Linked DNA regions of Homo sapiens: region 2 is linked to region 1. The links come from fine-mapping of genetic effects on gene expression. A gene starts in region 1. The other region holds a variant in brackets. All regions are shown on one strand. Distances are from middle to middle.

Region 1 (12,888 bases):
CCGGCACCCTGCCCGCCTACCCTGCACGGCACCACCGATGGCCTCCTCGGTGAGGTCCCGGGCGCTGCCCCACGAGAGGCCGGCGTCACGGCTGGCCACACAGCAGAGGCGCGCGGCGTTCCTTCCCGTGGCGATCTGCACGGCCTCAGGCGTGTGGCCCAGCACCGCGATGAAGAAGAGGAAGACGGTGCCCGTGCCAGCATCGTGCACAGGGCAGGGGTTCATGGACCGGTGCTCCGCCAGGGCTGCTGTCCCCAGCACGTGCAGGGCACCCCACTGCCCAGAGGAGGAAGTTCCGCTGACCAGGACGTCCAGGGACCTGGGCACAGCCCCCCGCAGGGCACCCAGGATCGCTGAGCCTGGTTTGCTCATCTCTACCTCGGGCATCTGCCTGCCGCCGCCACCCCCGCCCCATCCCGGGGTGTGCAGCCCCAGCAGATCCGGCCACTACACCCACACAGAGCCCCCGGCCACTCACTCACCCGCACGGAGCCCCCGGCCAGCGTGCCCCTCCTCAGCACCAGGCGGTGGGCGTGGGAGTCGTCAGGGCTGAGCCGCTGCTCCACAAAGGCCAGCAGGGTGGGCCCGGGGGGCACGGGGAGCAGCGAGGGCACGCGGTAGGTCAGGCCCGTCCTCTCCCGCTCGAAGAGCACTGTCCGTGAAGGGGTACGAGGGACCCCCATGCTCTGCTGGTCAGTACAGGGCCACAGGTCAGCAAGACAGGCCCAGGGAGCCCCACACTCGCTCCCGGTCTGGACTGGGGAATGCGCTCAGGAGGTGCAGACAGCTCCTGCCCACACCTGGGCCTCTTCCTGTACCCACCTTGGGGTCAGCCCTGTTTCTGACTCCCTCACCCCAGATCTGGAGCAGCCCCTCCCCCACCCTCCCTCGCACCCACTCCACCCCAAATGTCTGTGGAATCAGCCCCTTCCCCTCTCAACACGGCTCTGGGAGCTGACCCTCGGCCAGGCTGGTTGGTGCCAGGGTGCAGGGGAGGCTGGCCAGAGAGCCCCCGGGACCCTGCCAGCCATGTGCCCAGGACACAGGGTCATCCCAGAATTCGCCCAGCAGGAGGTCATGTGGACAATGAGGACCCAAAACCTCGAGCAAGGAGGAGCTCAGTGTCCCCAGAATAGAGGCCACAGCACCGTGGAAGCCACAGCAGAGACACAAAGAGGTGAGCCCACAGGGACCTGTGGGAGCCACGGGGCTCTCTGGGGACAGGGGATCGGCTCCCACTTCCTGAACGTCATCGGGGGAGTCACGGGGCTCTCTGGGGACAGGGGATCGGCTCCCACTTCCTGAACGTCATCGGGGGAGTCACGGGGCTCTCTGGGGACAGGGGATCGGCTCCCACTTCCTGAACGTCATCGGGGGAGCCACAGCCAGGGATCCTGCAGGGGACAGGTGCTTGGTGATCAGACCCCTGCCTGCAGGCAGCTGGCCCCACAGTGCCCTCATTCCAGTGCCTGGTGCTTCCCACCTGCAGGGCCCTGACCTGAGAAGCGCCCACAGGAATCAGAAGCTCCAAAGCCGAGTGGGGCCCGGCGGCCATTCTGGGAGTTTGCTCCCAGGCAACACCCACCAGGGCAGGGCCCGGGTGAGGGGGCATTTGGGGCACGCATGGGGTCTGCTTGTTGCAGGCGGGACCTGCCTGGGGGGTCTCTCAGTCTGATCGCACAAAGGCAGACGGAGCCGAGCGTGAGCACGCACAGCCCGGCACAGGGAGGTGGCACAGCTGCAGACAGTGGGAACGCTGGTCCTCCACCATGCAGGAGCGGTCAGATCCACGGCCAGCCGCCCAGGCCGGGCACACGGGGCACCTGGATGCGGGGCTAAGGGAAGGAGGGAGGAGGGAGATGGCCGGATGCCGGACACCACGCCTGGCCAGGGCAGAACGCCTGCCTACGACGGGGACCCATGCACACCCACGGGTCAGGCGGGACCCACTGACAGAGACCCGGGTAAAGGCGCAACACTCGTGTAAAACCCAAGCAGGCCTTGCCCCGACACCTGAGGCCCAAACAGACAGCTCCACCTCCAGCCACCTCTGCCCTGGGCCACCGGTTCCTGAAAGGCTCTTGGCTAGGACAGCTGGCCGGCCCCTTCCTGCCGCTCCCCCACCACCAGTGCGCGGCTTCTGAGAGCAGCTTCCGTCCCCAAGAAGCCCCTGGCTCTGCTCTCAAAGGGCAATTGTGCCCAAGCGGGAAGCAGGTGCAGACGCCATGTGTCCCTCTGGGCTGAGCAGGCACAAGCAAGACATTCTCTCTGCACTTGGCTCCCTCCCCAAGGCCCGGACCACAGGAGCAGGTGTCAGCACCCCCTGCAGACATGAGGCCCAGGCCCACCCCTGGGGACAGAGAGGGAGAGGAGGAGACTCCAGAAACCAGCTGGTCACTCCCCTTGTTGCACAGAGGGGAAACTGAGGCCCACAGAGAGGACAAGGCTGACACACACTTGGCTTGGGGCTTCCTTGCCACGGCCAGGCCCTGGGTTCCACAGAGCCTCCGTGTCCTCCATGTGGCCAGGCCCTGGGTTCCACAGAGACTCTGTGTCCTCAGGAGGTCCCTCTGTCTTGGGGGACCAGCCGTGCTCAGTGTGGCCAGGCCCTGGGTTCCACAGAGCCTCCGTGTCCTCAGTGTGACCAGTTCCCTGGGTTCCACAGAGCCTCCGTGTCCTCGGCAGGCCCCTCTGTCTCGGAGGCCAGCCCCGCTCAGTGTAGCCAGTTCAGCACATTCCAGGGGTTTGGCTTGACTGGGACAGCCATGTCCTGGACATTAACCAGTGCCCCCCGCCCTCCCTGACAGGGCCCTCCTTGGGGGTGTGGAGTCACAGAAGGGGAAACCGAGGCCCAGGGGAGATGGGACCTCCAGGAGAACCTGGCCTTCTGGTCCGTGGACCCCTGGACCGGTTGTAGGGGTCACTCTGGCTCAGCAGGGGGCCATCACAGACCACCCCCCCCACCCCCGCCAACCCCTCACAGCCCATCCTGTGTGGGTGCCCCAAGAGCCTTGAGGTCAGACCAGGCCCTCCACGCACACCCTCTGGGGTCCGCACACACCCTCTGGGGTCCACGCACACCCTCTGGGGTCCGCGCACACCCTCTGGGGTCAGCACTTCTTGTCGTGGGAAGTGTCAGGTGCAGGGTAGGAACATCTTGGCGAGGGGCATTCACATGCACCCACATAAAGTGCAGAGGCCCTTTGCACAGAATCCCGGCAGGGGGCCCTCGGCGGCTCTGACCCTCAGCCTGCACCGTGAGCGTCCTGGGCCCTGGCCAGGGCGAAGACTCCGACCACAGACCCTTCACCTGGTAGAGCGTCCCCGACCAGCCCATCTGCAGAACGACCCTGTGGGCTGGGGCCGGCCCCCTGCATTGGGCCCCTCACAACCAGTCTGTCTCCATCCCATGCCCTGAATCTGCCCCCAGGAACCCTCAGTGTCACACCCACCCTGTGGGCCAGGTAAGTGTCCCATTGGGAGATGCATGTGGGACCTCTTGCTGGAGGGGCCCTCGGAATCCCTGCAGCCCGCCCCTTGTTTGAGAGCTGAGGAGCCACCCTGGGGTTGGCAAGGAGTGGGACTCGTCCAGCACCCCCAGACAGAGGGGGCGGCCAGCTGGACAGATACCTCAGGAGCGGGTCCTGACCCCGGGCGCCCGGGTAGAGGGGTGAGGGTGCTGGGGGTGCAAAGGGCAGGGACTCACCAGCCACCTTGGGAAGGCTGCAGAGCTCATCATGGGTGGCTGCCTCGCCTGACCCAGAGCAGAGACAAGGGCCCACTGTGCGGGCAGCAGGCCAGGGAGCTGGCCACGTCTCAGGGCTACGTCAGGACCCTGGACACTCCCACGGTGGCACGGCTCCACTGAAGCCCAGAGCAGGGCCAGGGGTGCAGATGGGCACCCAGGAGCCACACAGACGCCCGGGACCAGCACAGGCTCCCCTCTGCAGGTCAAGGCACTCAACACTGGGGTGCTGAGGACACGGGGGTGCGCCCTCCAACAAGGGCTGTGCTGGGACAGGCCCAGCTGTGAGGCCGCAGTTGACCTCCCAGAGGGACACGGGTCTGCTGCTCCAGAGACGCGGCCCTGCCAGGAGGGCTCCGTGAGTGCACACTCTCCTCTGGGCTTCCCGGGTGCGGGGCCTCCCCTGGCACAGCACAGCCCCTCACAGCACAGGCCTCACTGGGCTCTAGCTCTGTATCTGTGCTCCTGGCAGGCCAGCACCCCATCGCAATGTCCTGTGCCTCTCAGGGCCCAGGGTGACCCCTCCCCAGCACAGCTGCCGTGCAGGACTCCTGCCAGTCCCATTCACGCTGGCCTGCCCCCAGCCTGTCCCCGCAGGACTCCTGCCAGTCCCATTCACGCTGGCCTGCCCCCAGCCTGTCCCCGCAGGACTCCTGCCAGTCCCTTTCACGCTGGCCTGCCCCCAGCCTGTCCCCGCAGGACTCCTGCCAGTCCCTTTCACGCTGGCCTGCCCCCAGCCTGCCATTTCAGAGGCAGCCTTGGTAACCAATGCTCAAATGACCACTGCCCAGGCCAGAATCTCAGAGGAGGCCACAGGTGCCCGGTATGTTCTGATGGGGCAGCCTCCGTGGGGGATCCCTGGGCCCTGAACACCCTCCTTTCTCACTGTCCCTCCCTCCCCTGCGAAGGGCATCCTCAGCTGCTTCTGAAACCTGGGGCGCTGTGGTGGGAAACAGGTAGGTCACGTGGTTTCCAGGCTGAGATGATAAACCTGCCGCGTCCCTCCAGGTCCTAGGGGCCTGAGGGGATTTACTGGGGGCAGCTGGGAGGGGGGCGGCGAGGAAGCAGGAGGGGTGGGCCCCAGCTCCTTCTGACTCATCTGAATGCCCCCCGTGGCCCCTCGGCCGCCAGAGCTCGTGAAGACGGTTAAGGAAAGCTTCCCCCAAGTGGCTTTCACCCCACGGGGACAGAGCCCCAGAGGTGCCTGTGGGCCCAGTGTCCTGTGCACTCACAGCCCCAGGAGGGGCGGACCCAGTCCAGGCAACTTGGCCATCGTACACATCCTCCTGCTCACAGCCGAGAATCCTGGGGCAGGGGCAGGTGGGTGGGAAGGGACAACCTCCCCACCCCTCAGAAGCCCCACCCCAGCCCAACCAGAACTGGGTGGCCCATCTCCCTTCTCGTGTCCCCCAAGTCTGGGACTGGTGGAGTCTGACCAGGGCCATCCCCTAAGTACCCAGGCTTACAGGGAAACGGGACCTCCAAGCCCCACGTCACCTTGCAAAGTCCCCTCCTGGGCCACCCTGAGACACAGGCCGGGTCTGGAGCAGGGCTGTCTGGCCAGGGTGTGCCCGCAGAGCTGGGGTGGGGGGCAGGCCTCACTCCCTCTGCTCCAGGCTTTTCAAGCCCACTGTTTTCAATCTAGAGATTTCACAGAAAAACCCGTGTTTTCAGCTTCTCTTGAAAAGTCAGATCTGCCCTCAGGTGCCACCCACTTCCCCTGGGCATCTCTGCCTGGACAAGCCACCGTCTACCCAGGGTATATGACAGCCACGGGTCCCACCAACCCCCAACTGTCACCCCATGGCCCACGGCTGCTCAGAGGTCCCTGGGCCCATCTGGGGCTCTGTCCCCGTGGGGTGAAAGCCACCCGGGGGAAGCTTTCCTTAACCGTCTTCGTGAGCTCTGGCAGCCGAGGGGCCACGCTGACCCCAGCATCACACGGAAGGCTGGGACGTGCCCCCTCCCCCAAGAGCAGTTTCGGCTACTCTGTGTCCCCCTTTTATGGGCTGCACGACGTGGCAGCATTTTAACCGCCCCTTCTCAATGCACAGCCCGGACAGGCTGTTCTCAACACTCTCTACTGCAAACTACACACAGTTTTACGTCGCCAGAAAGACCCCAAATTTCTATTCAAAAAGACCGTACCAGTTTCAGTTCCCGCCAACCTCAAAGGCAGAGACAAAAGGACGGTGTGCCCCTCCTGTAACTTCATTTCTTCGGTGACTGTGAAGCTGAGGGCAGAGTCCACGCCTGGGGACAGGGCTGCCACCGCAGCGGCCACTGCGTCCAACCCTCGCTCCTCCTCCCAGAGACGACCTGCGTTCCGCTCAGGGACAGGGCTGCCAACGCAGCGGCCACCGCACCCAACGCTCGCTCCTCCTCCCAGAGACAACCTGAGCTCTGCTCAGAAGCGGCACCTCCTCATGCTGGACTCACTCGGGCCCACATGTGCCAAGGGGGCCTGGTTTTGGGGCCGGCGGGTTCTGCCTGATGCTCAGAGGGTAACTGGATGCTGAAAACTGTGAGTCTTTCTTCAACTCAGGGGAATGTTTCCAGGGCACGCCAGGCCTCACTCACGCAGGCCTCCGCGACAACTGTTCAGCACTGACTGAGGGTGAAGTGAAATCCTGAAAGCTGAGAGCCAGCGCCCTCACACGAGGGCTGGGACGTAACAAAAGCCCATCAAGAGTTTTGCCCAGGGCTTTCTTGGGCCTTGAAGCATGACGAGACCAGGACCCGTTTAGGATTAAACAAGTTTTACTGGGGGTCTGAAAAAACTCCCCAGGCCTCCACAAACAAGTGGAGAAGGAACTCCCCAAACCTCCATGATTTAGCAGAAGACAAGATAAGGGTAAACACCTGGGCCCATTTAGATCAAGTAAATTTACTGAGTCTTCAGAGGAAGATCTTCAGGACCAGACCTCAGTTAGAGATGAGAAGAATTGAATCACGTACGTCTTTAGACGAATGCACACTGACACGGAGACACAGAGCTTAGAAGGTGTGTAAGCTCTGGAAAAACTGTAATCTGGAGTTGGTCTGGCGATCATTTCCAGGCCTTCTCCCTGTAACCAGTTACAGAAATAAAATCCCTCTTCTTCCCCAGTTCATCTGCATCTCGCTATCGGGCCTCGGGAATGAGCAACCCGACCCTGGGTTTGGTCCGGGAACGTTTTGTTCTCTGCGTGAACTGCTTTCTCATCTGTGGTCTTTTCTGTCTTCTGGGACTCCTGTTGTTGGCACGTGGGCTCCTCCCGGGCCACTTTCCCTTTACCTGGCAGGATCCTCTCCTGTGCCTTTCCTGGGCTGAGGGGGGAGGGAGGGAGGGAGGGAGGGTGGCCTGCCGAGGTCCCTGGGCTAAGAGGGGAGAGTGGCCTGCAGAGGTCCCTGGGCTGAGGGGGGAGGGAAGGTGGCCTGCAGAGGTCCCTGGGCTGAGGGGGGAGGGAGGGTGGCCTGCGGAGGTCCCTGGGCTGAGGGGGGAGGGAGGGAGGGTGGCCTGCAGAGGTCCCTGGGCTGAGGGGGGAGGGAGGGAAGGTGGCCTGCAGAGGTCCCTGGGCTGAGGGGGGAGGGAGGGTGGCCTGCGGAGGTCCCTGGGCTGAGGGGGGAGGGAGGGTGGCCTGCGGAGGTCCCTGGGCTGAGGGGGGAGGGAAGGTGGCCTGCAGAGGTCCCTGGGCTGAGGGGGGAGGGAAGGTGGCCTGCAGAGGTCCCTGGGCTGAGGGGGGAGGGAGGGTGGCCTGCGGAGGTCCCTGGGCTGAGGGGGGAGGGAGGGAGGGTGGCCTGCAGAGGTCCCTGGGCTGAGGGGGGAGGGAGGGAAGGTGGCCTGCAGAGGTCCCTGGGCTGAGGGGGGAGGGAAGGTGGCCTGCGGAGGTCCCTGGGCTGAGGGGGGAGGGAGGGTGGCCTGCGGAGGTCCCTGGGTTGAGGGGGAGGGAAGGTGGCCTGCGGAGGTCCCTGGGCTGAGGGGGGAGGGAGGGTGGCCTGCGGAGGTCCCTGGGCTGAGGGGGGAGGGAAGGTGCTCTTCCCGGGTCCCTGGCGTGAGGGGGGAGGGAAGCTGGCCTGCGGAGGTTCCTGGGCTGAGGGGGGAGGGAAGGTGGCCTGCGGAGGTCCCTGGGCTGAGGCGGGAGGGAAGGTGGCCTGCGGAGGTTCCTGGGCTGAGGGGGGAGGGAAGGTGGCCTGCGGAGGTTCCTGGGCTGAGGGGGGAGGGAGGGTGGCCTGCGGAGGTTCCTGGGCTGAGGGGGGAGGGAAGGTGGCCTGCGGAGGTCCCTGGGCTGAGGGGGGAGGGAAGGTGGCCTGCGGAGGTTCCTGGGCTGAGGGGGGAGGGAGGGTGGCCTGCGGAGGTTCCTGGGCTGAGGGGGGAGGGAGGGTGGCCTGCGGAGGTTCCTGGGCTGAGGGGGGAGGGTGGCCTGCGGAGGTTCCTGGGCTGAGGGGGGAGGGTGGCCTGCGGAGGTCCCTGGGCTGAGGGGGGAGGGAAGGTGGCCTGCGGAGGTTCCTGGGCTGAGGGGGGAGGGAAGGTGGCCTGCGGAGGTCCCTGGGCTGAGGGGGGAGGGAAGGTGGCCTGCGGAGGTCCCTGGGCTGAGGGGGGAGGGAAGGTGGCCTGCGGAGGTCCCTGGGCTGAGGGGGGAGGGAGGGTGGCCTGCGGAGGTTCCTGGGCTGAGGGGGGAGGGTGGCCTGCGGAGGTCCCTGGGCTGAGGGGGGAGGGAAGGTGGCCTGCGGAGGTTCCTGGGCTGAGGGGGGAGGGAGGGTGGCCTGCGGAGGTTCCTGGGCTGAGGGGGGAGGGTGGCCTGCGGAGGTCCCTGGGCTGAGGGGGGAGGGAAGGTGGCCTGCGGAGGTCCCTGGGCTGAGGGGGGAGGGAAGGTGGCCTGCGGAGGTTCCTGGGCTGAGGGGGGAGGGTGGCCTGCGGAGGTCCCTGGGCTGAGGGGGGAGGGAGGGTGGCCTGCAGAGGTCCCTGGGCTGAGGGGGGAGGGAGGGTGGCCTGCGGAGGTCCCTGGGCTGAGGGGGAGGGAGGGTGGCCTGCAGAGGTCCCTGGGCTGAGGGGGGAGGGAGGGTGGCCTGCGGAGGTCCCTGGGCTGAGGGGGGAGGGAAGGTGGCCTGCGGAGGTTCCCTGGGCTGAGGGGGGAGGGAAGGTGGCCTGCGGAGGTCCCTGGGCTGAGGGGGGAGGGAAGGTGGCCTGCGGAGGTTCCTGGGCTGAGGGGGGAGGGTGGCCTGCGGAGGTTCCTGGGCTGAGGGGGGAGGGTGGCCTGCGGAGGTCCCTGGGCTGAGGGGGGAGGGTGGCCTGCGGAGGTCCCTGGGCTGAGGGGGGAGGGAGGGTGGCCTGCGGAGGTCCCTGGGCTGAGGGGGGAGGGAAGGTGGCCTGCGGAGGTCCCTGGGCTGAGGGGGGAGGGAAGGTGGCCTGCGGAGGTTCCTGGGCTGAGGGGGGAGGGTGGCCTGCCTAGGTCCCTTGGGCTGAGGGGGGAGGGAGGAGGTCCCTGGGCTGAGGGGGGAGGGAAGGTGGTCTGCGGAGGTTCCTGGGCTGAGGGGGGAGGGAGGGTGGCCTGCGGAGGTTCCTGGGCTGAGGGGGGAGGGAGGGTGGCCTGCGGAGGTTCCTGGGCTGAGGGGGGAGGGAGGGTGGCCTGCGGAGGTTCCTGGGCTGAGGGGGGAGGGTGGCCTGCGGAGGTCCCTGGGCTGAGGGGGGAGGGAAGGTGGCCTGCGGAGGTTCCTGGGCTGAGGGGGGAGGGAGGGTGGCCTGCGGAGGTTCCTGGGCTGAGGGGGGAGGGTGGCCTGCGGAGGTCCCTGGGCTGAGGGGGGAGGGAGGGTGGCCTGCGGAGGTTCCTGGGCTGAGGGGGGAGGGAGGGTGGCCTGCGGAGGTTCCTGGGCTGAGGGGGGAGGGTGGCCTGCGGAGGTCCCTGGGCTGAGGGGGGAGGGAGGGTGGCCTGCGGAGGTCCCTGGGCTGAGGGGGGAGGGAGGGTGGCCTGCGGAGGTCCCTGGGCTGAGGGGGGAGGGAGGGTGGCCTGCGGAGGTCCCTGGGCTGAGGGGGGAGGGAAGGTGGCCTGCGGAGGTCCCTGGGCTGAGGGGGGAGGGAAGGTGGCCTGCGGAGGTTCCTGGGCTGAGGGGGGAGGGAAGGTGGCCTGCGGAGGTCCCTGGGCTGAGGGGGGAGGGAAGGTGGCCTGCGGAGGTCCCTGGGCTGAGGGGGGAGGGAGGGTGGCCTGCGGAGGTCCCTGGGTTGAGGGGGAGGGAAGGTGGCCTGCAGACGTCCCTGGCTGACTCTGACTCAGCAGAGCTCCTGCCATTCTTCACGGCCGACTCTCACTGAAAATTCACTCTTCCTGCAACTCCTCCAGGCTGAGCATGCTGCAGAGTAGCTGCGTTTCCTGGGTGCCCCAGGCATCGGCTGGTCCCGGCGAGTGCACCCCCTTTACCCGCTGAGCCCCTGGCAGCCAGGGATCACGTCCTGCCAGGCAGGGAGGCTCTGTCCCTCCCTGTGAATGACAAAGAGGGGTACCCACAGCTGCCCTCTGGCACCACACCCAACACGGTCTCCAAGGCAACCAAGGGTGTGTGTACCCCCAACCACTCCAGCCTCCTTTGGCAAGTGAGACTCCTCTCCTTCACGAGGCATCAGGGGCTGACCAGCAGGGGTCGTGGAGCTGAGCTCGACCTGGGCTCCGGCTAGAACCCTGGTCTTGTGAGCAGTTGTGCCATCTCTCTGTAGAAAACATCCTTCCATCAGAACCAAACCTCCTGCAGCGAAAGCTGTGGAGCTGTTCGGGAGCGGCTGAGCCCTGGCCCCTGCCCCGCTCCCGGGCCGGTCTTTGTGGCACTGCCTGTGCCTGCACCTGTCTCTGGGACCAGCACCTCGTCGCCAGGGCCGGGAAATTCAGGGGAACCACTCTGAGTTCCTCCGAGGATCCACAGCCCCAGTGCCCAGGACCCTGGGGAGTCCCGGGGCTCACAGGCACGCGCATCCTGCCGGGCAGGTGCTGCCCTGTGGTCCAGCATCCCCCACTCCCCACCCTCGTGTTCAGTTCTAAACAGAGACACAGCCTCGGAAGGGGGGCGGGTGGCTGCCGCCTGGGCTCAGGGCCTTCTCTGGGAGGGATCTGCGCGGATTGCGGGGGGTGCTCTTCACTGGGGTCTCCGCCCTCTTCATTTTAGAGCCGTGGCCGGCGGGCCTGGGTTTCCCAACGCCCCAGAAGCCCTGCAAGGATCCCCGGCCTCCCCGGTGACGGCGGAGAGAGGAGCTGGTGTCCGCAGGAGGCCTCGTCCCCGGCCCGGCCCCTCTACGCCCCCAGGAACGGGATGTTCTTGAGGGGCTTCTCCGGGAACTGCAGGGCGTACAGGCGGGCCATGTACTGGAGCTCAGGCATCACAAGCCTCTGGCACACGCCCAGCGTCTGGTTGTCCAGGCCCGGCCGGAGGTTGTAACCCAGGATGTCGGCCTTGCCGGACTGGTAGGGGCGCAGGCGCGGGTCTCTGATCTGCGTGTGGTTCTTGAGCGCGCCGCCGTCCTGCAGGCACAGGCTCGCGAGTTCGCGCCTCCGGGCGCGCAGCCGCTCCACCTCCCCGCGCAGCCGCCGCGGCCCCAGCTCGGCGCGCAGCTGCGCCCAGAGGGTGCGGTTGAAATGCTCGTACAGGCGCCAGTCCAGCGCGCACCAGCTCCGCGCGCGCTCCCGGGTCTCGGGCGACAGGCGGGCCACGGAGCGCGCGCTGCGGGAGTTGAGCCTGAAGGCCACCACGTCGTCCAGCGCCCAGCGCAGCCGGCGCCGCAGCAGCACCAGGGACTCGTCCAGGTGCTCGGCGATGAGCACCAGCCGGAAGCGCCGCTCCACCTCGGCGATGCGCGCGCGCACGTAGCCCTCCTCGCACTGCGCGTTGGGGTCGAAGCCGAAGTCGAACCACATGTTGTTCTTGGCGTAGACGTTCCTGAGGTGGCGGCTGTCGTTGTAGAACGTCCGCGGCGAGGCCAGGAACGCGTCCAGGCTCGGGGCGCCCCGGAAGGCGGGGGCGTAGGTTTTGTAGTAGATGAAGGAGGACTCCAGCTGGAACACGGGGTTCCTCAGGATGGAGAAGTAGAAGGTGTCGTTGGGCATGACTTTCTGCACCTGTGTGGCGACAGAGAGGCGGGCTGCGGACCGCGGGCCCAGGCCAGGGTGGCCCACCCGCGGGGAGGAGGCGCGCCCTGGCCACACCCGCTCAAGGAGCACCCCCATCCTCACATCTGCCGAGGAACCTGGGCCTGGCGCCTTCTCGTGCGGCAGCTCCGGGAGCAGAGCCAGGGCCACACGCAGGCCCTGCAGCCCAGTCACTGGTTCCCGGGTGCCCAGAACAGAGGCCAAGGACGCCAGGAAGGGGCCTCAGGAGGAGGAGTCCGTGGGCAGAGCAGGAGGAGGGAGGAGGAGCTCCCACTGGCATCTCGAGGAGACCCAGAGGCCTCTAGGAGTGGGATGCTGTGGCGCACAGACAGCACGAAGGGCCCTCCACGGGCCCCTGGCACAGGGGGCTTCAGCACTCCACCAGCTGCCCACAGGCCAGGGTGACACCCACCTAACAGACAAAGAAACTGAGGCCCAGAGAAGGTCCGTGACCCAGGTTCCCCACAGGGTGGGTCTGGACTCACCCTCGCTTGTGCCCCCTCAGAGGTCCTGGAGGATATACCCCACCCACAGAAAGTAAAGTCTTGCAGAAAGTCACGCCCAACTACACCGCCTGCTTCTCCATCCTCAGAAACCCAGGGAGAGAACAGTGGGAGGCCTCCTCCCTGCCCCCACCCTCTTCCTTTCCCCTCCTCCCGGCCCCTCCTCCTCCCTCTGCCCCGCAGCCCCCACCCCACAGCACACCCCCGCTGCCCCGCTCTCTGCCCATCACCTCTCCCCACCCGGCCTCCCTCTGGCCCCGCCTGGTCACCTAGCCTCTGCTGGCCATTCTCCACAGAGCGCTCAGGGTGACCCTAAAACACCTGTGCCTGCCCACAGCCCTCCCACCCACACTCCCTGCCCTGCTTCCTTTGTAAGGAAGGTCAGGGAAGCCCTGGGGGGAAGCCGGCTCTATGCTGAGACCCAAGGGACCCAAAGAAGGGCCTGCAGCCACAGAAGCGAAGGTCACAGGGTGGGGAGAGCCGGGCCTGTGCACAACTAGGAGGCCAGAGAAGCGGGGGAGCGCTGGGGACG
Region 2 (16,116 bases), 34 kb before region 1:
CCTCACACCACTCGGGAGAGGGACATCCTACGGTCCCAAGGTCAGGAGGGCAGGGCTGGGGTTGACTCAGGCCCCTCCCAGCTGTGGCCACCTGGGTGTTGGGAGGGCAGAAGTGCAGGCACCTAGGGCCCCCCATGTGCCCACCCTGGGAGCTCTCCTTGGAACCCATTCCTGAAATTATTTAAAGGGGTTGGCCGGGCTCCCACCAGGGCCTGGGTGGGAAGGTACAGGCGTTCCCCCGGGGCCTAGTACCCCCGCCGTGGCCTATCCACTCCTCACATCCACACACTGCACCCCCACTCCTGGGGCAGGGCCACCAGCATCCAGGCGGCCAGCAGGCACCTGAGTGGCTGGGACAAGGGATCCCCCTTCCCTGTGGTTCTATTATATTATAATTATAATTAAATATGAGAGCATGCTAAGGAGTTCTGTCCTGTCTGGTGGCTGTGGGGGCAGTGGGCAGGAGGGAGGGAGGCCTCCAGGGAGGGACAAGGCGGCAGCCAGGCTGAGGCTGTGTGTGGAGGGTGCTGGTGGCTCCCCTGGATCCTGGCCTGAGTCAGGCCTTCCCCTCGCTGTCCCAGAAACACACAGGCCCTCCTCGCCCTGTTTGCCCCACTCACATGTAGAGCCCTCCGGTGAAAAATTCCTCCAACATCACGGGGCTGGGGACACCATCTTCCCCAAGCCCAGGCCTTTTAGGGGGGTCCCACGGCCCCCTGGCCCCAGGCTTCCTGGCCAGGCATGGGTGTCCCTGAGTGACTGTGCCTGCTCCATAGCCCCCGTGTCCCCATGCCTACCAGTCCCTCCGGGCAGGGGTGGTACCTGGTGCCAGGGCGTCCACAGCGGGGTGGGAGGGCTGCCCTGGGCTATGAGGGACACAGCATCTGCGGGTCCCTCCCTAAGTACACAGGGTGGGGGCAGCGGGGGAGGCGGGGTCACGTCTGCTGGAGCCCTATCACCCTGCTGCGGTCCTTGGCAGCTAGCAGCAGGGACGGTGCAGGGAAAGGAGCCCTGCCAGGCCCTCGGGCACCGCAGCCAAACACCCACTGACACCCCGGGGCTCATTCTCTGCTTGCCATCCTGGAGCCCAGTCCTGGACCCCATGCCTGTGTCAGGGACAGGCACAGAGACCTCGCAGCTCTGGGAACTCCCGGTGAGATCCGGCAGATCAGGCCTGGCAGGGAACGCTGCCCGGGGGCTCTGCACATGATGTGGGTTTCCATCCGCAAAACCCGATAGGTCCCATGGAAAATGACCACAGGCAATGAGAAAGCCATAGAGTGCTGCCTGTGAGATCAGCGTCCAGAACTCACAGCTCTCAAACACCCACTCACAGCGCAGCGCGCCAGCGTCCAGAATTCACGGCTCTCATTCATCCATTGACAGCGCAGCGCGCCAGCATCCAGAACTCAAGGCTCTCAAACACCCATTCACAGCGCAGCGCGCCAGCATCCAGAACTCACGGCTCTCATTCATCCACTGACAGCGCAGCGCGCCAGCATCCAGAACTCAAGGCTCTCAAACACCCATTCACAGCACAGCGCGCCAGCATCCAGAACTCACGGCTCTCATTCATCCATTGACAGCGCAGCGCACCAGCATCCAGAACTCAAGGCTCTCATACACCCATTCACAGCGCAGCGCGCCAGCATCCAGAACTCAAGGCTTTCATTCATCCATTGACAGCGCAGCGCGCCAGCATCCAGAACTCACGTCTCTCATTCATCCACTGACAGCGCAGCGCGCCAGCATCCAGAACTCAAGGCTCTCAAACACCCATTCACAGCGCAGCGCGCCAGCATCCAGAACTCAAGGCTCTCATTCATCCATTGACAGCGCAGCGCGCCAGCGTCCAGAACTCACGTCTCTCATTCATCCACTGACAGCGCGGCGCGCCAGCATCCAGAACTCAAGGCTCTCAAACACCCATTCACAGCGCAGCGCGCCAGCATCCAGAACTCAAGGCTTTCATTCATCCATTGACAGCGCAGCGCGCCAGCATCCAGAACTCAAGGCTCTCAAACACCCATTCACAGCGCAGCGCGCCAGCATCCAGAACTCAAGGCTCTCAAACACCCATTCACAGCGCAGCGCGCCAGCATCCAGAACTCAAGGCTCTCATTCATCCATTGTCAGCGCAGCGCGCCAGCATCCAGAACTCAAGGCTCTCAAACACCCATTCACAGCGCAGCGCGCCAGCATCCAGAACTCAAGGCTCTCATACACCCATTCACAGCGCAGCGCGCCAGCATCCAGAACTCACGTCTCTCATTCATCCACTGACAGCGCAGCGCGCCAGCATCCAGAACTCAAGGCTCTCATTCATCCATTGACAGCGCAGCGCGCCAGCATCCAGAACTCAAGGCTCTCAAACACCCATTCACAGCGCAGCGCGCCAGCATCCAGAACTCACGGCTCTCATTCATCCATTGACAGCGCAGCGCGCTAGCATCCAGAACTCACGTCTCTCATTCATCCACTGACAGCGCAGCGCGCCAGCATCCAGAACTCAAGGCTCTCAAACACCCATTCACAGCGCAGCGCGCCAGCATCCAGAACTCACGGCTCTCATTCATCCATTGACAGCGCAGCGCACCAGCATCCAGAACTCAAGGCTCTCATACACCCATTCACAGCGCAGCGCGCCAGCATCCAGAACTCAAGGCTTTCATTCATCCATTGACAGCGCAGCGCGCCAGCGTCCAGAACTCACGTCTCTCATTCATCCACTGACAGCGCAGCACGCCAGCATCCAGAACTCAAGGCTCTCAAACACCCATTCACAGCGCAGCGCGCCAGCATCCAGAACTCAAGGCTCTCATTCATCCATTGACAGCGCAGCGCGCCAGCGTCCAGAACTCACGTCTCTCATTCATCCACTGACAGCGCAGCACGCCAGCATCCAGAACTCAAGGCTCTCAAACACCCATTCACAGCGCAGCGCGCCAGCATCCAGAACTCAAGGCTTTCATTCATCCATTGACAGCGCTGCGCACCAGCGTCCAGAACTCACGTCTCTCATTCATCCACTGACAGCGCGGCGCGCCAGCATCCAGAACTCAAGGCTCTCATTCATCCATTGTCAGCGCAGCGCGCCAGCATCCAGAACTCAAGGCTCTCAAACACCCATTCACAGCGCAGCGCGCCAGCATCCAGAACTCAAGGCTCTCATACACCCATTCACAGCGCAGCGCGCCAGCATCCAGAACTCACGTCTCTCATTCATCCACTGACAGCGCAGCGCGCCAGCATCCAGAACTCAAGGCTCTCATTCATCCATTGACAGCGCAGCGCGCCAGCATCCAGAACTCAAGGCTCTCAAACACCCATTCACAGCGCAGCGCGCCAGCATCCAGAACTCACGGCTCTCATTCATCCATTGACAGCGCAGGGCGCTAGCATCCAGAACTCACGTCTCTCATTCATCCACTGACAGCGCAGCGCGCCAGCATCCAGAACTCAAGGCTCTCAAACACCCATTCACAGCGCAGCGCGCCAGCATCCAGAACTCACGGCTCTCATTCATCCATTGACAGCGCAGCGCGCTAGCATCCAGAACTCAAGGCTCTCAAACACCCATTCACAGCGCAGCGCGCCAGCGTCCAAAATTCACGGCTCTCATACACCCATTCACCCCATTCACAGCACAGTGCGCTAGGAGACGGAGTGGCGGGCGATGTTTCATCTAGGACAGCAAGAGAGAAGATGCTCCCGGCATAAACCTAGCCAGAAACGTGGGAAAGCTGCCGCAGAGGCTGAACTCAATCAAAGGCACCCTGACCCCCGGGCCCCGAAGAGGCGCCACAGCTGCAAACATGCACGTTCTTCCGATACAATTTGTAAATTTAATACGATCCCAGTAAAAACCACAGTTCTGGAACTACCATGCTCATATGGAAAAATTAACAAGCAAGTAACAGCCAAAAAAACCATGAAAAGAAAGTGAAAGAGGACCAGCTTTATGAGCTCAGGGGAAACTTACTGTAATGAAAACAGGGTGGGATAAGCACCAGAAGACACAGGAACAGGCCCAGTCCCTGCGACCCAAATCAGTGAGGGGAAAAACGACTTTTTAACCAACTGCCCAGGGATAGGGATAGCCATCTGGAAAAGTATTAAGTTAGACTCATATGCACAAAATCCCAAATGCAGCAGAGAGAAAAGCATACAAAAAGAACCCTGGCCGCGCGTGGTGGCTCACGCCTGTGATCCCAGCACTTTGGGAGGTC[G/A]AGGCGGGTGGATCACAAGGTCAGGAGATTGAGACCATCCTGGCTAACACGGTGAAACCCTGTCTCTACTAAAAACACAAAAAATTAGCCGGGCATGGTGGCGGGCACCTGTGGTCCCAGCTACTCGGGAGGCTGAGGCAGGAGAATGGCGTGAACCCGGGAGGCGGAGCTTGCAGTGAGCCGAGATCATGCCACTGCACTCCAGCCTGGGCGACACAGCAAGACTCCGTCTCAAAAAAGAAAAAAAAAGGAACCCTACAAGAAACAAGAAACCGTGGGTGCATTCTTGCAGTGTGGGAGGGGAAGGCATTCCCAATGAATAAAGGACATCAGGCAACAATTAAAGAGAAGACTGATACACTGAACTCCATATATTGGAAAACAAAAAACTTTAGCTTGGCAAAAAAAATCATAAACAAACTGAGGGAAAATGTTTGCACCACCACAAAAGAGCGAATATGCCAGTCGTAGGAAGATCTAAGAGTCTGGAAAAAGCAAGGTCAAAAATACACGAGAAAGTGCAGGAGACATAACCCAACAGCTCAGAGAAAATGTGTGTGCGTGAGCCTGTGTGTGCACGTGTCTACACGTGTGTAGACATATGTGTGCATACAAATGTGTGTATGTACATACACAGGGGTATGTGTGTGGGTGTGTGTGTACAGGTGTGCGGACGTGTGTATCTACAATATATGTATATACGGCAGTGCCTGCGTGCATACCCATATCCCTTAAACAATGAAAGGTTGTTCAGGTTCTCTCAACAAAAATACAAGTTGAAACTACATCCACCAGGCTGACAGAGCTCTGACAACGGTGCGGCTGTTGGCGAGGCAGCAGGGAGCAGGCCTGAGGGGCTGGCGGGGAAGCCGAGCTGGAGACGCACCGGTGCTGTCTGGTAGGCGGTGGGCACTTGCCCTTTGCCCCCTCAACCCCCATCCTCGTCGAAACACTTCCCAGAGGTCACCGGCAAACATGTGCAGACGCAGAGCCCACGAGCTCACGGCGCTGGCTCGGCAACGGCAAAGCCGTCCAAAGCCGGCCGGGGGCTTGAGCCCGCCCCGGAGCCTCCATCAGCTGAGAGCTGGGGCCGCGGGAGCAGGGAGGAGGCTCAGGGCTCCCCACAGAGGGTCAGGTCACTCAAGACCATGAGGGGACACACGCGCAGGACAGAACAACTCGCTGTCCCCAACTTGCTGTCGTGTGAAAATGACACGGCAGCAGTCTGAGCATCAAACAATGCCAAATTAAAATTAAAAACCTAACTGAGGCTTGGCACGGTGGCACTTTGGGAGGCCGAGGCGGGAGGGTCGCTTGAGCCCAGGAGTTTGAGACCAGCCTGGGCAGCAAAGTGAGATCCTGTCTCTAAGGAAAAATTTTAAAATTAGCCAGGTGCGGTGGTCCCAGCTCCTCGGGAGGCTGAGGCGGGAGGATCCCTGGAGTCCCGGAGGTGGAGGCCGCAGTGAGCCACGATGGTGCCACTGACTCCAGCCTGGGCGACAGAGCAAGACCCTGTCAAAAAAAAAAAAAAAAAAAGCCTAATTGATTGACACACTTTGAGTACGTTAAAAAGAACATGAGCTCAGATCGATACTCACAAAAAGAGACAAGGCGGGCGGGGAGGGAGGAAGCGGTCGCTGTCCCCGGGCGTCCGCGGTGTGTTGGCGGCTGAGAGACCGCGGCGCAGTCAGCACTTCGCCTCCCGCCTTCCCGTCAGGCCGCCCCGCGCCGCCGCGCACTCACTTTTTCCGTCCCCGGCTGGCCCCGGGCCTGTGTCGCCGCCGGGCTGCGGCTGCGCTCCCGCCCCACCCACGCGCCCCAGGCGGGTCGGCCCGGCCTCGCACAGCAGCTGCGGCGGCTTCAGGAGCGCCCTGGGTGTGGCCGGGCCTCGGGGCTCCCCGGGGGACAGTGCCGGGAGGAGGCCGGGGCGCGTGGGACCCGGAGCGAGAGAGGCGCGGCCCCGCCCCGTGTCCCAGGCCCCTGAGCCCGGCCAGCTCCACCCACGCCCGCGCCCCCGCGCCCCCGCGCCCCCGCGCCCCCGACCCTGCAGCGCCGCCCCCACCCCTGCGCCCCACCCCAGCCCCGCCCACACCCACCGGCCGGGTCTGCGGAGTGCGTGGGCGTTGGACGCCTTACTCTGCACGGGGGACCGCGGGTCCTGTGGGCCTCGTGGATGGAGCCCGGGGTCCTTGGAATTGGGCGGGGTGGGGGGGAGTCCGCCCAGGGCTCCCAGCAGGAGCGAAGGTGAGCGGGGGGCCTCTGAAAGGGAACCCACCCTCGGGCTACAGGAGACCGGGCTGGCGATCTGGGTGCAGCGCCAAGGCCCTGGGGGCTGGTGGGGCCGCATGGGGGGCTGCGGTGTGAGTCCTGGTGGTCTCTACCCTCGTGCGTCAGGGCTCCAGTGTGGACAAACCTCGCTCTGAGTCTGGGTGAGGCTCCTGAGATTCTGGAGAGTTCAGGATGTGGAGGGTCCTCTGGAGGGTGACCGAGGCCGTGTGACCACACCATCGCCGTGGCCCCCTCGACTGTGGCACAATCGCTCCCCTTCTTGGGTGGATCTCCGCGTGTTCTCCCCATACCTCTGACCCCAGTCAGTCTGCCGCACCCACCAGTGGGGGCCCCTGTGTTTGTCCAGCCTTAGAAAACCTGGCCGGGGTGTGGCCGGAGGGGCACTGCCGGTGCCACTGGCCAGGGCTGTGAGAGCGCAGGATGCCTGCCCCGGGCACGGGGGCACCGTCGTCCCCAACTGCTTAGCCACAGAATCCAAGATTGGTTTGGGGTCTTCAGTTTTTATCTCAATTCAACCTGCAAAACCAAGTTATTACATACATGGAGGAGTATTCAGCCTTAAAAAGATGGAAGTCAGTGCACCCCATTCCCAGCAGCGCAATTCACAATCAGCGGCCATGTGGAAGCAGCAGCTCCGTGTCCACCGCCGGAGGAAGGAACGGACAGCACGGTGATTCCGCACAGAGGGAGTCACCTCAGGAAGGAAGGGCTCCCACACCCGCCGCAGCGTGGAGGAACCTCGAGGACGTCACACCGAGGGGCACAAGCCACAAAAGGACAAACACTGTGTGACTCCCCACACACGAGGTCCCCAGAGTGGGCCGGTTCATAGGCAGAAAAAGCAGACGGTGGGGCCCGGGGTCGGGGGAGCCAGCGGGAAGTGAGTGTTTAATGGGGACACTTTCTGTTTTGCAAGAGAAAAAGAGTTTCTGTTTCTGGGCTGGGAGGTCAGCCGCTGAACCGCTGAACCACAGTTGCTGGGCGGGGAAAGTGGGCCTCGACCACTGCCTGGCCTATGCAGGCTGCCCCGGAATCAGGGGCAGGGGCAGGAGCGCCGGGTGTGAGACCTCAGCCCATGGCAGCCTTCGGCCTCGCTGATGGACAGAAGGGGAAACTGAGGCCCAGGGAGGTGTAGCTGTAGTAGTGAGAGTTCTCTAGAGAAATAGAACCAATAGGCCGGGAGTGGTGGCTCATGCCTGTAATCCCAGCACTTTGGGAGGTCAGGACAAGCAGATCACTTGAGGTCAGGAGTTCGAGACCAGCCTGACCAACATGGAGAAACCCCATCTATACTAAAAATACAAAATTAGCCGTGGGTGGTGGCGCATGCCTGTAATCTCAGGTACTTGGGAGGTTGAGGCAGGAGAATTGCTTGAACCCAGGAGATGGAAGTTGCAGTGAGCCGAGATCGCGCCATTGCACTCCAGCCTAAACAACAAGAACAAAACTCCGTCTCAAAAAAAGAAAAAAAAAAAAAGAACCAATAGAATGTGGAGACAGAGAGAGAGAAACTTACTTGGAGAAATTGGCTCACATGACTACGGCAGGCAGGCAGGCTGGGGACGCAGGAGGAGCCGAAGTAGCCACTCAAATCCAAAGATGCCTGCAGGCAGGATTCCATCCTCCTTTCTCTCCTTTCTCTCCGGCCTTCATAGACTGGATGAGACTCCTGTGTCGCGGAGGCTGACCTGCTGATTCAAAGTCTACTGATCTCAGCGGTAATTTTATCTTCGAAAAATACCTTCACTGAAACTTCTGGACTGCTGTTTGACCAACATCAGAGTCCTGCGGCCTGGCCAAGCTGACACAGAATGAACCATTGCAGGCCGAAGGAGGCGGAGCAGGTGGCACGCAGGACCCCAGCTCTTCCAGGAAGTCTGGGCTTGTGGGGGGAATGGCCGGTGCGGCAGGGGGTCCCTCAGCCAAGGCGGGCCTGCAGCCGATCACGTTTTCACAAGTCCATTGGCCACGTGGATGCCCTCAAGATTATACTGATTGTCATCCACTTTCTTCCTTCTCTTTTCTTGGAATTTTTATAGCTACACTTTTTTAAAAATTAATAGGCTCTACTATCTAAAGCAGTTTGGGGTTTATGGAAAAGCTGAGTGGAAAGTAGACGGAGCCCCCATGTGCCCCTCGCCTCGCCCCTCACACACACTCTGCACCCCTATTGTTAGCGCCTTTGCCTTGGTGCTGGGTCCTTGCTGTGCGACGAATCTGCACTGACCTGGCCCCATCACGCAGGGTCCACAGCTCGAATTGGGGGCCAGTCTTGGCGTCTTGCGTTCCGGGAGTCCTGGCAAGTGCATGAGGTCAGGTATCCACCATGATGGTGTCAGGAGAGGCTTCCCTGCCCCGAAATTCCCCCGAGCTCCACTATTCACCCCTCCCTTCCCTGGCAACCACTGAGGATTCTTACTGTCTGGGTAGATTGCCTCTCCCGGAATGTTGTATAGTTGGAATCATACAGCATGCGGCCTTTTCAGATTAGCTTTGAGAACTAAAAATAAAATTCTAAGCTCCCAGTCAACTAAAAGGACGCCTGTTAGCCAAGGAGACCCCAGAGAAACCTTAACACCTGAGTTCCCAGCTAGGACGGGACAGGAGGACATATACAGCTCGTTAGAGCCCCTCCCTTTTGTGGTTTAGACACAAATGCCCAGAGTGAATGTTGAAATAGAGACCATAAGATTGGCAGGATTGGGCCAGGCGTGGTGGTTCACGCCTGTAATCCCAGCACTTTGGGAGGATGAGGTGGGTGGATCACTTGAGGTCAGGAGTTCAAGACCAGCCTGGCCAACGTGATGAAACCCCATCTTTACTAAAAATAAAAAAATTAGCTGGCCGTGGTGGCGGGCGCCTATAATCCCAGCTACTCGGGAGGCTGAGGCAGGAGAATCGCTTGAACCTGGGAGGCGGAGGTTTCAGTGAGCCGAGATCGCACCACTGCACTCCAGCCTGGGAGACAGAGTGAGACTCTGTCTCAAAAAAAAAAAAAAAATTGGCAGGGCTGAATACAGCAGTAAGATGCCAAATTATCAACAGGACCTGAGGCTGCACCAGGCAGGGTGAAGTCACACACGCTGCACTGACTTATGTCCTGCCTGCCATGAGGTTTTCTTTTTTTTTTTTTTTCTGAGGTGGAGTCTCACTCCGTTGCCCAGGCTGGAGTGCAGTGGGGCCATCCCGGCTCACTGCATCCTCCGCCTCCCAGATTCATGCCATTCTCCTGCCTCAGCCTCCTGAGTAGCTGGGATTACAGGCATGCACCACCACACCCGGCTAATTTTTGTATTTTTAGTAGACAGGGTTTCACCATGTTGGTCAGGCTGGTCTTGATCTGACCTCGTATTCTGCCAGCCTCGGCCTCCCAAAGTGCTGGGATTACAGGCATGAACCACCGTGCCCTGCTGAGGTTTTCTTTTTCTCTAGCAGCTAAACAAGCACCAGCCTCTAGGGAAGCCACATTCACACAGCTGCATCTCACCTGCCGCCAGACGCTGGCTCATGACTCGCTCCCCTCGGCCACCAGCCCTAATGACCACTTTGATTGGACAAGAGACTGATTTCTGTAACTTTTCTATGAAAAGGAATCTTGTGTGCTAAATTTTTGTCCTAAAGTAAAATGACTGGTTATTTAAGAAAGAGAGAGCACAGGACAAACCATTAAGTCGCAGCATGTTGTAAACAGTCTGTATAAGTTGTGATAAGGTTCATAAAAAAAACGTACACCTGTAATCCTAGCACTTTGAGAGGCCAAGGTAGGCAGATTACTTGAGCCCAGGAGTTCAAGACCAGCCTGGGCAACGTGGTGAAACTCTATCTCTACTAAATTACAAAAATTAGCCTGGTGTGGTTGTGCATGCTTTTAATCCCAGCTACTCGGGAGTCTGAGGCAGGAGAATGGCGTGAACCCGGGAGGCAGAGGCTGCAGTGAGCTGAGATGGCACCACTGCACTCCAGCCTGGGACACAGAGAAAGACCCTGTCTCAAAAAAAAATTTTTTTTTAAGTATGAAAGGAATTTTGTATATGTTTAAGCTGGCTATTACTAAAAGGAAATTGCTTATAGCAGTCTTTCTAAAGATTGAACTTTGATATTAAAAGTACACTAATTGGTCCAGGTGCAGTGGCTCACGCCTGTAATCCCAGCACTCAGGAGGCCTAGGCGGGCGGATCATAAGGTCAGGAGTTTGAGACCAACCTGGCCAACATGGTGAAACCCTGTCTATACTGAAAATACAAAAATTAGCTGAATGTGGTGGCGGGAACCTGTAATCCCAGCTACTCGGGAGGCTGAGGCAGAAGAATCGTTTGAACCCGGGAGGCAGAGGTTGCAGTGAGTTGAGATGGTGCCATTGTACTCCAGCCTGGGCAACAGGCTGAGACTCCATCTCAAAAAAAAAAAAAAGTACACTAATTAATATAAAACCAAAAGTTTTCGGTTAGAGAAAAGTTTTGTTAAAATAATAATTTGCTATTAATAAAATTTGATGTTTAGGTGGGCGCGGTGGCTCACACCTGTAATCTCAACATTTTGCGAGGCCGAGGCAAGTGGGTCACCTGAAGTCAGAAGTTCGAGACCAGCCCGACCAACATGGTGAAACCCTGTCTCTACTAAAAATACAAAAATTAGCCAGGCGTGGTGGTGGACACCTGTGATCCCAGCTGCTCAGGAGGCTGAGGCAGGAGAATCGCTTGAACCTGGGAGGCGGAGGTTGCAATGAGCCGAGATTGTGCCACTGCACTCCAGCCTGGTAACAAAGCAAGACTCCATCTCAAAAAAAAAAAAAATTGATGTTTAATTCTGTGTTGATCCTTGCCTTCTGTTCTTGTGCCCTTGCCAAGGTGTATCTTTTTGCTTGGTTGGGATGATAACCTTCCCTTTCAGCCTTTTTTTTCATCAGCTCCTGTAACTTTCTTTTCCAATTGTAACTACTGCTGTGGCCTGATGCTGAAATGTTGATCTTAAAGGTCTAGAAAAGCAATGTTTTCCTTCATATAACTTGATTCTGTACTCTTGGCTTTTCTTGTTATACATTGTTCAGTATAGCCAGGAAACTTCTCATGCTGTTACTAAGAGTCATGCATTGCCCTGCTCAAGGTGCTGGTTTTCTTGTTTCCTTTCCTCCATAACATCAGGTACACTCATGACCCTAGACACACTCTTCCTGCACCTGACTAAATTCAAATATCCTTTTTCATCAGGTTTGACTTGCAGGTTAGCTCAATGGGCTTCCAGAGGAGAAACAATGACTGCAGAAGGTGTTTCTTTGCCTTTTGAGTAACTGGCCTCAAAAAACGAAGATTTTGCATTTTATCAAGATAATTTCCAGTGTCATTTTTATTTGGTTTTTTGATTGCTTATGAAAACTGAGCTTGTTTTTACATCCATGTAACTTTCTGCCTTGCCATTGAAGATGGCAATGGTTACATGAGTAACTATTATTTTACAATGACCTAGGATTCTATTTTGATCAAATGTTTTGAGCCTTTTAACATCTTTCACAAAAGTCCTCAAAATCAAATCCTACATTAAGCATCTCACTTAGACTTATTGCAGGCAGGATCATCAAAGCTATAAAAATGAATCATTACGAGATTATACATATTTTTTTGAGACAGAGTCTCACTCTGTTGCCCAGGCTGGAGTGCAGTGGCACAGTCATAGCTCACCGCAGCCTCGAACTCCTGGGTTCAAGTGAACCCAAAGTGCTGGGATTATAGGAGTGAGCCTCCACACCTGGCCTGTAAAATCTTTTTGCAGCTTCCAGTTGTGTCATGAACTCCAAAATCACCACCTCCAGCCTGCTGATTACATACACTGGAAGAAACATCAGTTACAGGACTCTTTCCCCTGCACTTTGGAAGGGTCCTTAAAAGGTACTATTAACAAATCCATGTGCTACCAAGTTACAGGGAGTTGACTCCTGGGCACACATAGAGTATGAGTCTGTTTTCACACTGCTATAGAGAACTGCCCGAGACTGGGTAATTTATAAACAAAAGAGGTGACAGCCAGAGGAAGATGCAAAGGAAAGGCATCCCAGGCAGGGAGCATTGCAGCTACAAATGCCCCGAGAGCCTGTATGAGTTTGATTTCACACGCTGTAAAGACACTACCTGAGACGGGGTAATTTATCAACAAAAGAGGGTTCATTAACTCACAGTTCCCCATGGCTGGGGAAGCCTCAGGAAACTTAGAATCATGGTGGAAGGTGAAGGGGAAGCAAGGTACGTCTTAATTTAATTTTGCGTTCATCCTGTTCATCATGGCAGGGGAGAGAGAAAGAGCAAAGGGGGAAGAGCCCCTTATCGAACCATCAGATCTCGAGAGAATTCACTCAGTATCACGAGAACAGCGTGGGGGAAACAAGCTCCCATGACCCAATCAGCTCCCACCAGGTCCCTCCCTCAACACATGGGGATTACAATTCGAGATGAGATTTGGGTGGGGACACACAGCCAAACCGTATCACATCACCTAAAAAAGGCACCAACTCCTGCTGAATCTTGAACATTCCACACTGGTATCTGAAACCAAACTCAAGCTAACCAAAGCCTTGTCTTCAGATCCGGGGGAAGACAACCATCGAAGTGAACGGCTTTCATGAGACACAGGGCTGGGTTTATACTCCAAGACGTTAAGACATTTCATAGTTTTCCCTCTATCTGAATTAATATAATTTGCTCTATGTCTTAGTACTATATACTTTAGATGTTTAGCTACCTGTGAGCTTCCTTTTCCTGTTCTTATCAGAACTGAACAGCGCTTATTGCCTTTGTATTTAAAGTGTTACTGATTCTTTGTTTTGTTTTCCAAAGTCAAGAAAACCTTTTTTCTTTTAACCTATTTATAGGTGACAGAAACTGAGTAAAATAACAAAGTTCAGCTTTCTCTCTCTACCTTCTACCTCCAGAATTCAAAAACTATTCATGAGCATTCTTACTTACAGCAATATGGTGGTTTGCATAAGTTCAATAAGAATACATTTTCTTTTGTAACAGGACACTTTGGGGATATTATTTTAACAAGACCTTTGACTGAAATAACACTTTCCGATAAAGTTCCAGCAAAGCCAATTTAAAAAGAGCCTACACGGCCAGCTGCTATTCCTGCTGCAATTTACACAAATGATCAAGCCAAATAGAATAAGACTAAAACTTATTTTGTACACAAATTGGTCTTATTATTATTTCTCTGTGGTAGAAAGGGGGAACTAAAGAGATGAAAAAAATTACGTTTCAAAAGAAAACACTTGTTCTGCAATTCCAGCCCCGACCACTGTTCTTGAGTTTTATTTTTTGCCTATAATTCAAACTGAGTCTTGAATTATCTCTTGGCTACACATCTCTAAAGAGGATCCAGGTTGTAATTTTCTTCATGATCGTTTTAGTTGGCTCCCTAATGGGGTTGATTCCTTTCTTCCTGTTAGGGGCGCATAAATTCTTGTTGAGAGGCAAAGCCAGCTGGACTTCCTGGGTGGCGTGGGGACTTGCAGAAATTTTCTGTCTTACAAGAGGATTGTAAAACGCACCAATCAGAGCTCTGTAGCTAGGATTGTAAAACGCACCAGTCAGAGCTCTGTAGCTAGCAAGGGGATCGTAAAACACATCAATCAGCGCTCTGTAAAAATGCACCAATCAGCGCTCTGTAGCTAGCAAGAGGATTGTAAAATGCACCAATCAGCGCTCTGTAAAATACACCAATCTGCACTCTGTAAAATGCACCAATCAGCAGGATCCTAAAAGTAGCCAATCACAGGGAGGATTGAAAAAAGGGCACTCTGATGGGACAAAAATGGAACATGGGAGGGGACAAATAGGGAATAAAAGCTGGCCACCCCAGCCAGCAGCAACAACCTGCTCAGGTCCCCTTCCATGGTGTGGAAGCTTTGTTCTCTTGCTCTTCACAATAAACCTTGCTACTGCTCACCCTTTGGATGTGTGCCATCTTTGAGAGCTGTAACACTCACTGCAAAAGTCCGTGGCTTCATTCTTGAAGTCAGCGAGACCACGAAACCACCAAAGGAACCAACTCCAGACACATTATGCCTGTACGTTATAATTCTACCACTCAAATTATTAATGCCATTTATCTCTCAAATCTCTCTCATTCAAAGTCTCCTGGAGCTGTTGCTGAAGCTATACCATATCAAGCACCCTCTGTCTAGGCCCAGGGACTGCTGAGGAAGAGAAGGGGGCGTGAGATGGTAAGGGCTGGCTTCAAAGGATAAAACTAGTTCAGGCTGGGTGCGGTGGCTCATGCCTGTAATCCCACCACTTTGGGAGGCCAAGGCAGGCGGATCATCCAAGGTCAGGAGTTCGAGACCAGCCTGGCCGACATGGTGAAACCCGTCTCTACTAAAAATACAAAAACTAGCTTCACATGGTGGCACGCGCTTGTAATCCCAGCTACTCTGGAGGCTGACGCAGGAGAATGGCTTGAACCCGGGAGGCAGAGGTTGCAGTGAGCCGAGATCATGCCACTGCACTCCAGCCTGGGTGACAGAGTGAGACTCCATCTCAAAAAAAAAAAAAAAAAAAAAAAAAAAAAAAAAAAAAACTAGCTCAGACCCTCCAAATCAAGGACAGTGCATAGATGCCTGCACTGCTGACAAATCAAGGGACTGTGCCTCCTGGGCCATTAGGTGGTTCCCTCTCCATCCCTCCAACTCTAACCCTCTAAAGAATTTCCTGCTTCCCATAGACTTAATTACCAAGAGGATGTAATGACACCTAGTGACACAGCCTCCAGAATACAGCTGTTCCCAGTTATGGGATTTATACAAATAGAGATACAATTAAAACGGTATTGGCCGCCTTAGGACAAATTACTAAAAAGACCACAAAAAGCACAGCAGCATATCAAAGTCTCTAAATTCCTTAGCTGAAATGGTTTTAACAAAATGCTTACGTTTCGTGTAGCTAATTGCTACAAGTCAGAGACTGAGACCAAAATTATGATAGCTCAACACTTGGAACTTATAGATAAGCCAGTTTTGTCACTTCGCCTTTTGGCTTTTGGTTTTCAGCTCTTATATTACCTCCAATTCCGCCTGGCCCAGAACGTTGAGTTGGCTGTAAGTCTTTTAGCTGTAAGCCCCTTGGCAATCAGGGTTCCACTGAAGGGCTGGAGGGACCAGGGCAGGTAGCCCCACCTCCCCCAGCAACAAGGTGGGCCAAGATAAAGGTTTGGCCGTGGATGCTGCCTATGGCAAATCTCAGCCAAAAGCGGGAAATGGAGACGAAAAATAAAATTCTAAGCCACCCAACTGACTGAACCGACGGGCTCCTCACCCCTTGGTCAAGGGGACCCCAGAGAAACCTGAAAAATGGAGTTCTCAGCCCTGAGGGGACAGGAGATCAGATGCGTCCCATGACACCCCTCCCCTGTGTGGTTAGACGCAGCAACTGCCCAGCATGAGTGTTGAGATAGAGAACATCGCCTGGCAGAACCGACTGTGGCCATAAGACGCCACATTATCAACGGGACCTGAGGCCACCCCAGGCAGGGGCGAAGTCACACACGCTGCACTTATTTATGTTCTACCTGCCACGGGAGTTTTCTTTTTCTCTGACACCCAAACGCTGGCCTT

What was found.
Region 2: its variant is fine-mapped to the expression of NEU4 in monocytes (Schmiedel 2018, PIP 0.95).

What each region holds. Positions count from the first base shown.
Region 1 is chr2:241,802,280-241,815,167 of GRCh38, reverse strand. NEU4 (neuraminidase 4) reads right to left here and starts at 5,975. Exons shown (of 4, transcript NM_001167600.3): 1 at 5,894-5,975; 2 at 483-686; 3 at 21-276. The coding sequence starts at 683. It overlaps LOC124905349 (a long non-coding RNA gene), which reads left to right and starts at 4,472. Exons shown (of 2, transcript XR_007088398.1): 1 at 4,472-4,701; 2 at 5,800-6,853. It overlaps GAL3ST2 (galactose-3-O-sulfotransferase 2), which reads right to left. Exons shown (of 4, transcript NM_022134.3): 4 at 10,881-11,823. The coding sequence ends at 11,002.
Region 2 is chr2:241,834,190-241,850,305 of GRCh38, reverse strand. LOC124905350 (a long non-coding RNA gene) reads right to left here and starts at 6,139. Exons shown (of 2, transcript XR_007088410.1): 1 at 5,828-6,139; 2 at 3,826-5,741. PDCD1 (programmed cell death 1) reads left to right here. Exons shown (of 5, transcript NM_005018.3): 5 at 1-422. RefSeq lists silencers at 6,995-7,289, 8,221-8,380 and enhancers at 6,920-7,617, 15,594-16,094. The variant G/A (reference allele first, on the strand shown) is at 4,230.